Homo sapiens: one gene and its partner. The protein of the gene in region 2 purifies or fractionates together with the protein of the main gene of each other region. This does not show direct contact. Each region holds a gene or a part of one and is shown on either strand. Other genes may lie near its edges.

Evidence for each region. The genes of interacting proteins can lie anywhere in the genome.
Region 1: the proteins of PBDC1 (region 2) and PTPN23 fractionate together in Homo sapiens (co-fractionation; one large-scale study listed by BioGRID). This does not show direct contact.

Annotation. Positions count from the first base shown.
Region 1 is NC_000003.12:47,383,980-47,387,931, reverse strand, and holds part of PTPN23 (tyrosine-protein phosphatase non-receptor type 23), read right to left. Parts: intron 1-3,952. UniProt on the Homo sapiens protein: Plays a role in sorting of endocytic ubiquitinated cargos into multivesicular bodies (MVBs) via its interaction with the ESCRT-I complex (endosomal sorting complex required for transport I), and possibly also other ESCRT complexes.
Region 2 is NC_000023.11:76,174,996-76,179,500, forward strand, and holds the end of PBDC1 (protein PBDC1), read left to right. Parts: intron 1-477; coding exon 478-618; intron 619-1,885; coding exon 1,886-1,997; intron 1,998-2,620; coding exon 2,621-2,913; coding exon of another isoform or gene 2,914-3,022; 3' UTR 3,023-3,319; downstream 3,320-4,505.

The DNA.
Region 1 (3,952 bases), on a different chromosome or scaffold from region 2:
TGCCATGATTTTGCAGATTAGAGAAAGGGCAAACCACAGATAAGCAATGATAGTGCTAGGACCCCAAGACAGATTTCCTGACTCCAGACCTAATATTAATCCCTCTGTGTCACCTTCTCTTGTACTAGTATGTTCTCATTCTTCTATGTATGCTTTGCTCTTAATTTAACATTTGGAATTTCATCATGCTAATTAAAGCAATAAGACAAGAAGAAAAGGCAATTAAAAGGCATCACATGTGTTAGTTTTACCTTTATTCACCAGTTACATTATGTTTCTTTTTTCTCCAGTTCCAGAGTTGACTCAAATGTAGGGCATTCCTTGGGCTACTCTAAGAAACAAACTTTTTTTTTTTTTTTTTGAGACAGGGTCTCTGACACCCAGGCTGGAGTGGCGAGATCTTGGTTCACCACAGCCTCGACCTCCTGGGCTTAAGCCATACCCCCCACCTCAGCCTCCTGAGTAGCAGGGACTACAGGTGTGTGCCACCACACCACGCCTGACCTTTCTTTTTTTTTTTTTTTTTTTGTAGAGACAGGGTCTTGCTTTGTTGCCCAGGTTAGTCTCAAACTCCTGGTCTTGACTGATCCTCCTGCCTTGGCCTCCCAAAGTGCTGGGATGACAGGCATGAGCCAACGTGCCTGACCAGTATTGTTAATTAATACAGTATATGTTCAGCTACTAAATTTCAAATGAGACTAATTATATTCAGAGAATGGCGTATTGCCAAGTGAAATCTTCAGCTCCTTGGTCCATGTCAGCAAGCCTGAAAGAAAACCGCCATAGGCCAAGAGTACTGGGGATAAAAACATACCTTCATCCTCCCCTTGTCTAATCCCTACAATAATACTCAAGGCCTCGTTCCCACATCTTTTCTGAATGGCCCCTTGCCTGTCTGAACAACACAGTGAGGAAGACTCAGGTTACCTCTCCCAGAAGGTCCTAGAACTAGACTAGGTCATTCAACCAATGCTTGTTAAGCACTCCCTATATACAAATATTTTATTACGTCCTGAGTAAAGGAAAGAATCTGGTCTAAACTCTAACTGAAATGGATATAGGCCTCTGGTGTATGAGATTCAAGTCAGAGAATAATGGACAATCCAGGTCATCTGTGCCTGGAGCTGTTCCGCTGCAAATACAAGTGAACAGACAGGCTCAGGCAACTGGGTGACTCCAAATCTGTGACAAGAGATAAGACAGGTCACCACCACAGGTAACAGGCAATGTCCCATGCCCCTCACTGCTGAGCAGCCAGAGGCCTTTTAGGCCTCTAGTCCTCTTATTTACCTTTCTATGTATGTGTCTGTGTATGTACATACATGTGCAAGCTAGTTTTTCAAGAGCCAGCCATCCCATGGAAAATCTGGAAGGGGAAAAAATTCCATAAGCCTGAAAAACCAGGCTTCTACCCGGATGTGAATAAAATGAACAGTAAAAAAAAGGCAACAAGAGTGTGCACTGTGGGCTGGGCACGGTAGCTCATGCCTGTAATCCCAACACTTTGGGAGACCGAGGTGGGCAGATCACTTGAGGTCAGGAGTTCGAGACCAGCCTAGCCAACACGGCGAAACCCCATCTCTATTAAAAATACAAAAATTGGTTGGGCGTGGTGGTACACCCCTGTAATCCCAGCTACTCGGGAGGCTGAGGCACAAGAACTGCTTGAACCCAGGAGGCAGAGGTTGCAGTGAGCCAAGATTGCACCATTTATACCCCAGCCTGGGTGACAGAGCGAGACTCTGTCTCCAAAAAAAAAGAAAAAAAAACCAGCGTGCACTCTGTGGTGCAGGCTAACCCAGTGGTGGACAGCAAGACAGTCTGAATTCAGAGGAGGGAAAAGTTCTTTCTTGTTTCTGGCCCAAACACTTGCTGGGTGGCTGAGAGGACCCTAATGACGTACAGTTCAACCCATGTGATAAACAGGAGGAAGGGAATTCCAGTAAGGGCCTGAGCAAGGGCAGTGACCAGATGTGGAAGGAAGAGAAGCTGAAAGTTCTCATAGGAGAGGACTGGGGAGTGAAGTTAGAGAGACAGGCTGAAGCAAGCTGGGGACAGGCCATGAGCAGCCTGATGGGAAAGTAGAGATTTAGAGATCAACTCAGCCAGAGTGGGAGGATGGGAGATGAAGAGAAGCCAAGTGACAGGCAGGGTGGCTACCAGCCAGATGTACACCTGCACTTGAGGATGAGGGTTACTGTGTAGATTACTAGGAGGTAAGTTTCATGAAGACAGGGTTTTGTGGTGTTTTTTTGGAGACAGGGTCTCACTCTGTCGCCCTGACTAGAGTACAGTGGTGTGATCTTGGCTCACTGTAACATCCACCTCTGGGTTCAAGTGATCCTCCCACCTCAGCCTCCTAAGTAGCTGGGCCTACAAGGCACGCACCACCATGCCCAGCTAATTTTTGTATTTTTAGTAGAGATGGGGTTTCATCATATTGGCCAGGCTGGTCTCAAACTCCTGGACTCAAGCAATCCACCTGCCTCAGCCTCCCAAAGTGCTGGGATTACAGGTTAGAACCACTGCTCCCAGCCAAGACACAGGTTTTTGTCACCACTGTACCCAGGGCTGGCACATGACAGGCACTCAATAACTATTTGTTCAATGAATGAATCAGGGATGAACGTAACAGCTCAGTCCAAGTAAGCTGGACTTGAGCTCAAGTACAGCTGGTTAAGGGCAAGTGTTTGGGCCAGAAAGAATAAAGAACTTCAAACAGAAATACCTGAGGCCAAATCACTCACTGATAAAGAGGACAAGAGTCATCCATCATCAGTTTCCAGTGAATCAGCACTCTGGCCTCCAAAGCACAAGTTAAGAAGATGCAAGGCCAGCAGCATTTCCCCACTAAAAAATTACGTGGGTCTGGCTGGGTGTGGCGGCTCATACCTGTAATCCCAGCACTTTGGGAGGCCGAGGCAGGCAGATCACCTGAGGTCGGGGGTTCAAGACCAGCCTGACTAACATGGAGAAACCCCGTCTCTACTAAAAATACAAAATTAGCCAGGCGTGGTGGCACATGCCTGTAATCCTAGCTACTTGGGAGGCTGAGGCAGGAGAATCGCTTGAACCCGGGAGGCAGAGGTTGTGGTGAGCCAAGATGGTGCCATTGCACTCCAGCCTGGGCAACGAAAGCAAAACTCCATCTAAAAAAAAAAAAAAATTCACACGGGTCCAATATCCTAACCTAAAGTTTGCCACTGCAGTTCAAAACCATCCTGTTTTTCTGGCTTCTATTTCACATTATGCCATAATGGAAGGCTTGTCTACTGGGAGTGAAAATCAATACTAGCCACCATGAAAGATTTGTCAAAAGCCCAGCCCTCTCAAACAACGAACCCCTTTACCTGTCTGGAAAACTCCTATTCATCCTTTAAAATCCATCTCTGGCAAGCCTTCCCTGATGGCCCCTCCTCAGGCTGGTATTTCTATACACTGCAAATACTTCTACTCTTTTTTTTTTTTTTTTTTTTGAGACAGTCTCGCTCTATCACCCAGGCTGGAGTGCAGTGGCACGATCCTGGCTCACTGCAAGCTCCGCCTCCCAGGTTCACGCCATTCTCCTGCCTCAGCCTCCCGACTACAGGCACCCGCCACTATGCCTGGCTAATTTTTTGTATTTTTAGTAGAGATGGGGTTTCACCGTGTTAGCCAGGATGGTCTTGATCTCCTGACCTCGTGATCTGCCCGCCTCGGCCTCCCAAAGTGCTGGGATTACAGGCGTGAGCCACCGCACCCGGCCTACAAATACTTCTACTCTTAATGTCATCACTATAATTTTTAAATTTCCTTTATGAATTCCTTGAAAAAAAAAAAAGGCTGTCTCTTACTTGTCTGCTTATCAAGGTTCAGCATAGTACTTAACCAGTTGATGTAAACAGAACCAATTTTCACCCTTCTATTCTAAATTAAATTCTAACCCTCAGCTCCAATTCACTGGCAGAGGTTC
Region 2 (4,505 bases):
TAGTGTATGATGCTCTGCTTATCACTATTCTCAGCAAGTTAAACAGTTGTGTTTTGGAGATCGTTTTTATTAATGTAAGTTCTTACCCACAGACAACAGAGGAGCGAAGGCAAATTTGTTTCTACAATGAGTTCTGCTGCTTTGCCCAGCGTTATAATGCTAACTGACAAAAGGGCGTCTGGCCCATACATAGTAGGCACTTAATAAATGTTTGTTGAATGAATGAACAATCCACGGAGGGCAATAGCCAGGCAGTACTGTGGTTAAGTAAGCCAACTGCCAAATTGGTGGAAGGGATTGTAATAATATATTATGGCCTTAAACTGTGTCATGATTTCATCTAGGATGTAGACTGTCGACACTTCCTGAAGAGATCTTCTGCCCTGAGAACCATAAAGGTTTTCTGGTGGGGATGGGGAAGATAGAAGTATAGTAAATTACAGACTAGCATCTGTATGTTGTCTTACTGTTTCGCAGCTGATTTCATCAGTTGACCCACAGTTCCTGAAACTCACCAAAGTAGATGACCAAATTTACTCTGAGTTCCGGAAAAATTTTGAGACCCTTAGGATAGATGTGTTGGACCCAGAAGAACTCAAGTCAGAATCAGCCAAAGAGGTAAAAATTCTCTTTCTTAAATATTACTTAGCATTTAACCAACAATTTTTGATTGCGAATGTTTTTTTACATTTAAGCTCTTTTTTTGTTTGAGAAAAATATGTAAAGAACCAGAACTTCTTTTCTAGTTGTAATCAACTAAGTTAGGAAATGAATGTTTTTCCAGTTTATGGACTTTTCATGTTGTTGAGTCTATTTTTTTCTCCTTTTTGTCTTGGACATTTTAAATCTCCACCCATCAGCCCTTTCAGAGGAGGATGGATCAGTTTATTTAGGTAGTATAGCCAGAAGGCTTGGATGGGGAGTGGCAAATAGGGTATAGGAAGGTGTTTTGATTCTCTGGATTTAAGTTCATGTGATTACAGGCCATGGGTAACTGGAAAACTTTTGTTTTTCATTGCTTATGTGATTATCCTATACTTTGATAGGAAACTAACACATTTACAGTTAGGAAAAAAATGTTTTCCTTGAGAGTAAACCCTTGGCTAATGAAGAATCTAAAGTTTTTGTTTGTTTGTTTGTTTTGTTTTGTTTTTTGTTTTTTGGTTTTTTTTTTTTGATACAGGGTCTCACTCTGTTGCCCAGGCTGGAGTGCGGTGGTGCCATCTCAGCTCACTGCAACCTCCGCCTCTCAAGCTCAAACAGTCCTCCTGCTTCAGCCTCCCTAGTAGGTGGGACTGCAGGTGCATGCTACCATGCCCAGCTAATATTTTGTATTTTTGGTAGAGACAGGGTTTCACCATGTTGACCAGGCTGGTCTTAAACTCCTGAGCTCAAGCGATCCGCCCGCCTCGGTCTTTCAAAGTGCTGGGATTGCAGGCGTGAGCCACCACACCCAGCCAAGAAACTACACTTTTAACTCCTAGCAGGCAGTTAGTGATCTTTGTCTTTGGAAAACTGTCACTACTGAATGGACTTCTTTATTAAAATCATTTGTGTTTTAGTGGGGATAGATGACCATTTTGGGCTGAACTGACCAATAACTTCAAAACAAAACAATTGACTTAAGAAATAATATTTTAATTCTGCAGTAAAGGATTTATATATTTTTCAGAGTAAAATATTGTTCATCTTGGGAAATGGCAGTCTAAAGACACAATAGGTAGCACAGAAACGCATTGCTAGTTTCACTGTGAAACCAACAATCACCTCAATCCCAGTCTCACTATGATTATTTTCCTTACTGGGAAAATGGAAGTCCCTCTCCTGGCCTTAGTACGTCAGCCTCTTGCATTTGTCAGCTAAAGCATCGTTTTTGCCTTTATAGAAGTGGAGGCCATTCTGCTTGAAGTTTAATGGGATTGTTGAAGACTTCAACTATGGTACTTTGCTGCGACTAGATTGTTCTCAGGGCTACACTGAGGAAAACACCATCTTTGGTGAGTTTCTTCCCTCTGGAATTGTTTCTGTGTAAGGAGACTGAACAGTCTGGCTTTACTGATGAATCAGTGATGTGTATAGTTAGGTCACCTTATCTTGTTTCATCTTTAAAGATCTTGTTGCTATTTTTATGTAACTTGAAGATAGTTAAGTATTTTCAATCTCATTAATATGAGATTGGAATTAAAGATCTCTGAAGTTTATGACTATACTGGAATGGTTTGCATGTTATTTCAATTTTGTCAGTAGATTTCCAGCATATTTAGGGAACAGGCCAGGCACAGTGTCTCATGCCTTGTAATACCAGCACTTTGGGAGGCTGACATGGGAGGATCACTTGAGCTGAGGATTTTGAGACCAGCCTGGGCAACATAGGGAGACCCCATCTCTACAAAAATGTTTAAAAAATTAGCCAGGTATAGTGGTGAGTGTTTGTAGTTCCAGCTATTCAGGAGATTGAGGCAGGAGGATTGCTTGAACCAGGGAAATTGAGGCTGCAGTAAGCTGTGATTGTGCCACTGCAGTCCAGCCCTGGTCATCAGAGTGAGACCCTGTCTCAAAAAAAAGAGATTTAGGGAATAAGCTGAGAGTAGGATGATAATCAATTCTGTTCACTTTTCAGCCCCCAGGATACAATTCTTTGCCATTGAAATTGCTCGGAACCGGGAAGGCTATAACAAAGCTGTTTATATCAGTGTTCAGGACAAAGAAGGAGAGAAAGGAGTCAACAATGGAGGAGAAAAAAGAGCTGACAGTGGAGAAGAAGAGAACACCAAGAATGGAGGAGAGAAAGGAGCTGATAGTGGAGAAGAAAAAGAGGAAGGAATCAACAGAGAAGACAAAACTGACAAAGGAGGAGAAAAAGGGAAAGAAGCTGACAAAGAAATCAACAAAAGTGGTGAAAAAGCTATGTAAGGTATACAGGGAACAGCACTCTAGAAGCTATGACTCAATTGAGACTACAAGTACCACGGTGCTACTTGCACAGACCCCTTTGGTTAAATGTAAATTCTTGTACAATTGAAGGATACGCAGAAGGACATCTTTCTAGTCTAACAGTCAGGAGCTGCTCTGGTCATTCCCTTGTATGAACTGGTCTAAAGACTGTTAGTGGGGTGTTAGTTGATTTTTCCTGGTATACTGTTTCTTGGCTGACACTACTGGTCAAGTAAGAAATTTGTAAATAAATTTCTTTTGGTTCTTATTATCTATATCTGTGACTGACTTTAAAAAGGTATTTGACACTTGAAATTTTTTTCAAATATGTAATCTCATCACCATGTCTTATATAAGATAATTTACTCCTGTTTCTTACTGCTTCTCACTGTTTCCTGTAGTGAAGTTCTCTAAACTTGTTAAGTTATACCTGGTGTTGGGATTAGAAGTCCTTACATAAGAATTGACTCTTAATCTCTGAGTGACTATAACTCCCTGATTTCTTTGCTATATATGACAAAATATTTGATAAATAGCAGCAACCTGAACCTGTCAAACTAGTGAATGCAGCCCAGTTCATATTAGAAGAGCAAGAGACTGGACATGCTTCAGTATTTGCTTTTCTTTTGGTAGCCAGAATGTTACCTGAAAGCTAGCAAAAAAAAAAAAAAAAAAAAGGGAAAACCAGACAGAGTAGCTACCCCCTTTTTTTTTTTTTTGGAGATGGAGTCTTACTCTGACTCCCAGGCTGGAGTGTAGTGGCACAATCTTGGCTCACTGCAACCTTGGCCTCCTGGGTTCAAGTGATTCTCCTGCCTCAGCCTCCCAAGTAGCTGGGACTACAGGTGCGTGCCACCATGCCCAGCTAATTTTTTGTATTTTTAGTAGAGACGGGGATTCTGTGAAGAAAGTCAATGGTAGCTTGATGGGGATAGCATTATATCTATAAATTACTTTGGGCAGTATGGCCATTTTCACTATATTGATTTTTTTCTCTCCATGAGCATGGAATGTTTTTCCATCTGTTTGTGTCCTCTCTTATTTCCTAGAGCAGTGGTTTGTAGTTTTCCTTGAAGAGGTCCTTCACATCCCTTGTAAGTTGTATTCCTAGGTATTTTATTCTCTTTGTAGCAATTATGAATGGGAGTTCACTCATGATTTGGCTCTGTTTGTCTATTTTTGGTTTATTGGTGATTTTTGCACATTGATTTTATATCCTGAGACTTTGCTGAAGTTGCTTATCAGCTTAAGGAGATTTTGGGCTGAGACGATGGGGTTTTCTAAATATACAATCATGTCATCTGCAAACAGAGACAATTTGACTTCCTCTCTTCCTATTTGAAAACGTTTTATTTCTTTCTCTTGGCTGATTGCCCTGACCAGAACTTCCAATACTACATTGAATAGGAATGGTGAGAGAGGGCATCCTGGTCTTGTGCCGATTTCCAAAGGGGATGCTTCCAGCTTTTGCCCATTCAGTATGATATTGGCTGTCGGATTATCATAAATAGCTCATTATTTTGAGATACGTTCCATCAATACCTAGTTTATTGAGAGTTTTTAGCATGAAG